Linked DNA regions of Homo sapiens. The protein of the gene in region 1 purifies or fractionates together with the protein of each later gene. This does not show direct contact. Each region holds a gene or a part of one and is shown in the gene's direction. Other genes may lie near its edges.

Region 1 (3,648 bases):
TGGCTCATGCCTGTAATCCCAGCACTTTGGGAGGCCGAGGCGGGTGGTTCGAGACCAGCCGGGCCAACATGGTGAAACCCCGTCTCTACCAAAAATACAAAAAACTAGCCAGGCATGGTGGCAGGCGCCTGGAATCCCAGCTACTCAGGAGACTGAGGCAGGAGAATCGCTTGAACACAGGAGGCAGAAGTTGCAGTGAGCTAATATCACGCCACTGCACTCCAGCCTGGGTGACAGAGCAAGACTCCATCTCAAAACAGAAAAGGAGGTGGAGAAGAGGGGTAGTGGTTGGAAGAAGGAATTCTCCTTTAGGGAAGATGTCTGGGAAGGCCTCTCTGAGAGAGTGGCCTTTGAAAGGAGACCCTAATTGGATGAGGGATGAGAGGCTGAGCCATGTAAGTATCTGGATGGAAAACATTACAGGCGGAGACAGTGGTGTGTGCAAAGGCCCTGGGACAGGGTCACCCGTGTTAACAGGTTTTAAAGCTGGAATTGTGGATGGGCTAGAGTCAGACACTAATAGGGCCCAGAGGGGACACTGGTCCTTGAAATAGAATTTGAGGATTTGACCATGGCCAGGAGGCTCAGGTGGCCCAGTGGGAACTCCTTAAATGGGAACTTCCTAAAGGAAGAATATAAGAACCAAAGTCCAGGGGGCAGTGCCAGGCCCAACCTGTGAGGGTTCCCAGAGTTGGAGGGCTAGAGAGAATCTGCTTCCAGTTCAGGCCATAGACTCTGAACCTCACAGGCACATTGCCATCCATCTCCCCTCACCCCCAACCGAGACGGAGTCTTGCTCTGTCGCCCAGGCTGGAGTACATTGGCACCATCTTGGCTCACTGCAACCTCTGCCTTCAGGGTTGAAGCAATTCTCCTGCCTCAGCCCCCCGAGTAGCTGGGATTACAGGTGCCCGCCACAACACCTGGCTACTTTTTGTATTTTTAGTAGAGAGGGGGTTTCACCATGTTGGCCAGGCTGGTCTTGAACTCCTGACCTCATGATCTGCCCGCCTCAGCCTCCCAAAATGCTGGGATTACGGGTGTGAATCACTGCGCCACCCTCTGCCATCCATCTTAACATGGCGCCATGAGCCAGCCTCTCAGGAAAAGGGTCTCATGAACAAATGAGGAAAGCAAGTAGAGGTAGGGCAGGGAGGGAGAGGCAAAGGAATGTGTTGTTGGAAAGGGTAGTGTGCCCCTCACAGATGACAGTACCCGTCTCCAGATGTGCCCACTGAGAGTTTATGAAGGGGCTGCTCCATGTGGTCCTTGACTGCCCTGGGGGAGAGTCACAGAAAGCTATAATGCCACTGCCTCTCGGTTTCCCCAGGAGCTCGCCCGTCAGCGAGGAGTCCTGGAGCGCACAGAGAAGATGGTGGACAAGATGGACCAAGATTTGAAGATCAGCCAGAAACACATCAATAGCATTAAGAGCGTGTTTGGGGGGCTGGTCAATTACTTCAAATCCAAACCAGTAGAGACCCCACCTGAACAGAATGGCACCCTCACCTCCCAGCCCAACAACAGGTGAGTGCATCTTCTACCATCTGGGTATAAAGGAGCAGAAGTGGGGATTAGTGCAAATGACCAAGACTTTCAGTCCACGTCAGTGCCATGAAGGGATCCAACAACCCTTTAAGTTACTCATCAGGGGATATTTGTCCTCAAACATTGTGAAACCAGGAACTGTTCTTCCCTGATCCCATGTTCACTTGATTGACATCTAGTCTGTCAATAGCTTCTCCAATAATTGTGACCCCACTACTTTGAAAGAGAGGGTGTTCACCTCAGCGTAATCTGTACAAATGTGACTCACTTCACATAATTTTTGCTTTAAAAAATCTTTAGGGCTGGGTGCAGTGGCTCACACCTGTAATCCCGACACTTCAGGATGCCAAGGTGGGTAGATTGCTTAAGCCCAGGAGCTCGAGACCAGCCTGGGCAACATAGTGGGAACCCAGTCTTTACAAAAATTACCCAGGCATTGTGGTGCACACCTGTAGTCCCAGCTCCTCAGGAGGCTGAGGTAAGAGGATCTCATGAGGCCTGGAGATCAAGGCTGCAGTGAGCTGTAATGGTGCACTCCAACCTGGGCTACAGAGGGAGGCCCTGTCTCAAGAAAAAAAAAAAAAAAAGTCTTTATGTCTAAATTTGTCATATCTAATCCAATTCGCCCATTGATTTTTATTTGAAAATTATAAGGCTGGGCTCAGTGGCTTATCTGTAAAATCCCATGCTTTCAGAGGCTAAGGTAGGAGGATTGTTTGAGACCAGCCTAGACAACATAGCAAAGACCCGTCTCTATAAAAACTAAAAAAAAAAAAAAATTAGCCAGACATGATGGCACGTGCCTATATTCCTAGCTACAGGGGAGACTGAGGTGGAAGGATTGCTTTAGCCCAGGTGTTAGAGACTAGAGTTAAGCTATGATGGTGCCACTGCACTACAGCATCAGTGACAGAGTCTCCCTGTCTCTAAAAAAAAAAAAAAAAAAAAAAAGATTTAAAGCTAAATAATTAAAATCAAAAAAATAAAGTTAGAAGTTGCTTTCCTCAGGTTTTGGCTCGAAATATAAAATCATACATGAGACTGGGGGCCAGGCACGGTGGCTCACGCCTATAATCCTAGCACTTGGGGAGGCCGAGGCGGGTGGATCACCAAGTCAGGAAATCAAGACCATCCTGGCTAACATGGTGAAACCCTGTCTCTATTAAAAATACAAAAAATTAGCTGGGCGTGATGGCGGGCGCCCGTAGTCCCAGCTACTCGGGAGGCTGAGGCAGGAGAATGGTGTGAACCCGGGAGGTGGAGCTTGCAGTGAGCTGAGATCATGCCACTGCACTGCAGCCTGGGCGACAGAGCAAGACTCCGTCTCAAAAAAAAAAAAATTCATGAGATTTTGGTAGACTTCAGTGTTACATGTTCAAGGATAAAGGAATGGAGTTTCTGCTGAAGTAGATTACTATTGTTTGTATTTCAGATCACTGTGTCTGTTTTTATTACAAAAACAACATGGCCACATTACAGACAATCTATACTTTACCTACCGCAACACAAAAACAGAAAATTTCATTTTCCCCTTATTCAGTATTTTCATAGTTGTAACCATAGTATTCTTTTGGTTTGATAGCCTTTTTCTTCCATTTAACCCAGAAAAACTGCTTGATATTATGTGATAACTCAGGTTCCATAACCATCTCTCTCTCTCTCTTTTATTTATTTATTTTTTATTTTATTTATTTATTTTTTTTGAGATGGAGTTTCACCCTTGTTGCCCAGGCTGGAGTGCAAAGACGTGATCTCAGCTCACTGCAACCTCTGCCTTCCAGGTTAAAGCGATTCTCCTGCCTCAGCCTCCCAAGTAGCTGGGATCACAGGTGCCCACACCATGCCTGGCTAATTCTTTTTTTTTGAGACGGAGTCTCACTCTGTCACCCAGGCTGGAGTGCAGTGGTGCGATCTCGGCTCACTGCAAGCTCCGCCTCCCGGGTTCATGCCGTTCTCCTGCCTCAGCCTCCCGAGTAGCTGGGACTACAGGCGCCTGCCACCATGCCTGGCTAATTTTTTGTATTTTTAGTAGAGACGGGGTTTCACCGTGTTAGCCAGGATGGTCTCGACCTCCTGACTTCGTGATCCATCCGCCTCCGC
Region 2 (3,648 bases), on another chromosome or scaffold:
AATAGCAGGCCTGGGGACCACAGTGTGGCTGGCCCCCTCCTCTGCAGGCCTGGGCTCCGGGGGCAGGTGGCCCCTGCATGTAACTTATGTTAGAAATGCACAATGCTTGTTCTCTGGTGCCACAAAGAAATAGTGCTCGAACATTAATTTTCTCAGCAAGGCAGTTTTTACTTTCTGCAGAAAGGGTGCCCCTCGCAGATGGAGCAATGGCAAGAGCACACCTGAACAAGGGAGGGGAAGGGGTTCTTATTCCTGACACAGGTAGCCCTACTGCTGTGTTGTTCCCCTGTTGGCTAAGGTTGGACCACACAGTCTAAGCCAATTCCAATTGGCTATTTTAAAGAGGGCAGGGTAAGAGTCAGAGTGGTGGGGTGAGTAGTTTGACGGGAAGGACGGTTAGGAACAGGTAACTCAAGGTGACTTAGGTCAGAGCAGGTGACCGGGATGAGTCAGGATGGAGCAGGTGACCAGGGAACAGATGTGAACTACTGATTAGGACTGGCGGGAAAATTGTTTACTGAAACTAGAAGCAAGGGGCGAAGAGAACCAGGAATTTTAAATGGAGAATCAAAGAAGAGATCTGGCCGGGTGCAGTGGGTCACGCCTGTAATCCCAGTACTTTGGGAGGCCGAGGTGGGCGGATCACGAGGTCAAGAGATGGAGACCATCCTGGCTAACACGGTGAAACCCTGTCTCTACTAAAAAATACAAAAATTAGCCGGGCGTGGTGGTGGGCACCTGTAGTCCCACCTACTCGGGAGGCCGAAGCAAGACAATGGCTTGAACCCGGGAGGCGGAGCTTGCAGCAAGCAGAGATCACGTGACTGCACTCCAGCCTGGGCGACAGAGTGAGACTCTTGTCTCAAAAAAAAAAAAAGAGATCTGAACATACTGACTTACTGATTCTTTGAAGACAAACTTGGAGTTCACTATATTTAACACTTAGGACCCCTAGTATCTGCCACTGGGCTGCGGGGGCAGCTGCAGGGACACACACCTGTTGGGTGCCTGCTGGTTCCACCCAGGAGCACAGCCAGCAGCCTCATGCCTCCTGCCCCCTGGCAGTCGGGTGCACGTGGAGCAGGTGGCCTTGGCCTCGACAGGGTTCCCAGGGTCCCACTGGAAGCCCCACATGGAACTGTGCCTCTGGGACATTGCTCCAGGGACCTCGGGTGCGGGCTGGCCCCATCCTGTGGGGAGGTCCTGGGAGGGTCAGTCTGGCCCGCCTGCCTGCTGACTTGGGTGTGGCCTGAGCAGGTAAAGGCGACACAGGAGGAGAACCGGGAGCTGAGGAGCAGGTGTGAGGAGCTCCACGGGAAGAACCTGGAACTGGGGTAAGGAGGCCCCGTCTCCTGTCCTCCCCGTCCCCATCCCCCTCGCCATCCTTGTCCCCATCCCCCTCGCCATCCTTGTCCCCATCCCCCTCGCCATCCCTGTCCCCGTCCCCATCCCCACCTGGCCTGGGACCGCTGGGCACCCGAGGCAATGGCTGTGTGTCTGTTCTCCTCCCACAGGAAGATCATGGACAGGTTCGAAGAGGTTGTGTACCAGGCCATGGGTGAGTGCCCGGGCCACCGAGGCCACGTGCCTCCACGAGGGGCTGCCTATGCCCCACCCTGGCCCTGCCCTGCACCCTGCCTAGGACCCCACCCTCCTGAGGCCCCTTTTCCTAACACACGAGTCCCTTCAACATGGGCCCGGCCGTGGAAGCACTGAGGCGAGTTGCGGGGAAGCTGGTGGTAGTGAGGCTGGTGGCTCCCACGGAGCCAGGGCTTGGCAGGCCCCACAGTTGTGCAGATGCTGAGCTAGCAGTGGGGCTGTGGTGGGAGCAGAGTCTGTCCCGCCGTGGCCTACCCCACTCCACCCTGCCCTCGCCGTGCGGCTATGTCTAGCAGCAGCCTCTGTAGGTGTCTGGCAGGACGGGAACACCAGGCCTCATCTGGCCTCCCAAAAGCTTGGGCTCCTGGAGGTGCTACTGTGGGGATCTGTCTTAGGCTGAGTGTCAGCCGGCGGCAGGTGACCGCCTGGCCCTTGCAGTCCCTCCAGGACCACCACGAAGCACGACGCACATCCTGGAGCTCGCCATACCGGCTCCCAGGCCTCACCCTAGGCTCTAGGGTGTTGGGCGCCGCCTCTTCAGGGACCTCTGGCCCAGGCTCCAGTTCCCTGCGGATCTGATGTGGAGGAAACAGCTGTTTCCTGGGCTTTGCATCCGGCCTAGAAGATCCTGGGTGGAGGGACCCATCACCCTCCGAGGCTCACACCCACTGCCCACCTCTCCTCCTGGCGCTCGAGTCCCTTGCCTCATTCCTTGGGCTGTCTCTGGCACCCATCGTTTCGGTTGCCTCCTCATCCTGAACGTTTGCTTTTCTTTTCTCAAGAGGAAGTTCAGAAGCAGAAGGAACTTTCCAAAGCTGAAATCCAGAAAGTTCTAAAAGAAAAAGACCAACTTACCACAGATCTGAACTCCATGGAGAAGTCCTTCTCCGACCTCTTCAAGCGTTTTGAGAAACAGAAAGAGGTGATCGAGGGCTACCGCAAGGTATGTCTCCGCCACCCTGGTGTCCTCACCTCGGAGGCTGATGGACTCATGGTCCAAGCCAGCGGGGCTACAAGCTGCTGTCTTTGCACCTTGGTCCTTGGCCAAGCCTCCCCTTGCCACGGGGGCATGGGATGACCTGTGAACGAGACAGGGTGCAGGAGTCACAGCATAGCTGGTTTGCGAGGCAGCTGAGGGCGGCAGGAGGCAGAGTGAGCAGGGAGGCCATCTGAGCCGTCCGCTGTTGTGTGACAGACGACTCGGCTATGATCAGGCATCTGTGAGATTTGAGACAGCGCTGGTGCACCGGGGCCTGGGGCACCTCGGAAAGGTGTCTGGGCTGTCCGAGCGCTTGGGTCCCAAGGGTTGGGGACCCAGGGCATGCAGTATCCAAGGCGGGAGGCCCACTGAAAGGTGGTCACGGCTGTGCAAGGCCACCCTGGTGTCCTCCTGGCCACGGGACTCTGAGCGCCCCCCACCTTCTGTGCTGGGCAAGGCCCACATGCTTGCTGGAAGGAGGGATGTCTGGGCCATCCATCTGCCCAGAGCAGGCCTGGAAGGTGCCTGCGAGGCCGCCAGAGGGTTCTGCCCACAGCAGCAATGTTGGAGCGGAGGTGCTCAACGCCTCCTGTGGAGGAGCTGGACCTGCAGGTGCAGCTGGAAGAGGGGCTGTCACTGTTGGTGCAAGGGGGTTGGGGACACCAGATGGGTCCCCTGGGAGTCAGACTAAACTGGAAAAGCGGCCCTTGCAGGGCCTGCTGAGCCACACCTCATCTGAGTCCTGAAGTCAGGTGGGTGTCAGTGGCTGGGGCCCAGCTGCCTAACAGAAGCAAGCCTGAATACTCTAGGGAAGAAGGTATCTTATGCTTTAAATTGCTGCTGCAGTTTTAAATTAGTGTCTGGCACAGAATAACCAAGTGTGAAAGGAACAGGAAACATGAGTGAAAATCAGACCCGTTATTAGAGTGAGGCATGGTGATGTACACCTGTGGTCCCAGCTACTAGGGAGGCTGAGGTGGGAGGATCATTTGAGCCCGGGAGGTCGAAGCTGCAGTGAGCCATGATTGTATCACTGCACCCCCAGCCTGGGCAATAGACCAAGACCCCCA

What was found. The genes of interacting proteins can lie anywhere in the genome.
Region 2: the proteins of SNAP29 (region 1) and TACC3 purify together in Homo sapiens (affinity purification with mass spectrometry; 3 studies listed by BioGRID and IntAct, with this or other methods). This does not show direct contact.

The regions. Positions count from the first base shown.
Region 1 is NC_000022.11:20,869,007-20,872,654, forward strand, and holds part of SNAP29 (synaptosomal-associated protein 29), read left to right. Parts: intron 1-1,330; coding exon 1,331-1,527; intron 1,528-3,648. UniProt on the Homo sapiens protein: SNAREs, soluble N-ethylmaleimide-sensitive factor-attachment protein receptors, are essential proteins for fusion of cellular membranes.
Region 2 is NC_000004.12:1,738,445-1,742,092, forward strand, and holds part of TACC3 (transforming acidic coiled-coil-containing protein 3), read left to right. Parts: exon of another isoform or gene 1-1,254; coding exon of another isoform or gene 1,255-1,257; coding exon 1,258-1,334; exon of another isoform or gene 1,335-1,514; coding exon 1,515-1,558; exon of another isoform or gene 1,559-2,037; coding exon of another isoform or gene 2,038-2,117; exon of another isoform or gene 2,118-2,381; coding exon 2,382-2,542; intron 2,543-3,648. UniProt on the Homo sapiens protein: Plays a role in the microtubule-dependent coupling of the nucleus and the centrosome. Involved in the processes that regulate centrosome-mediated interkinetic nuclear migration (INM) of neural progenitors.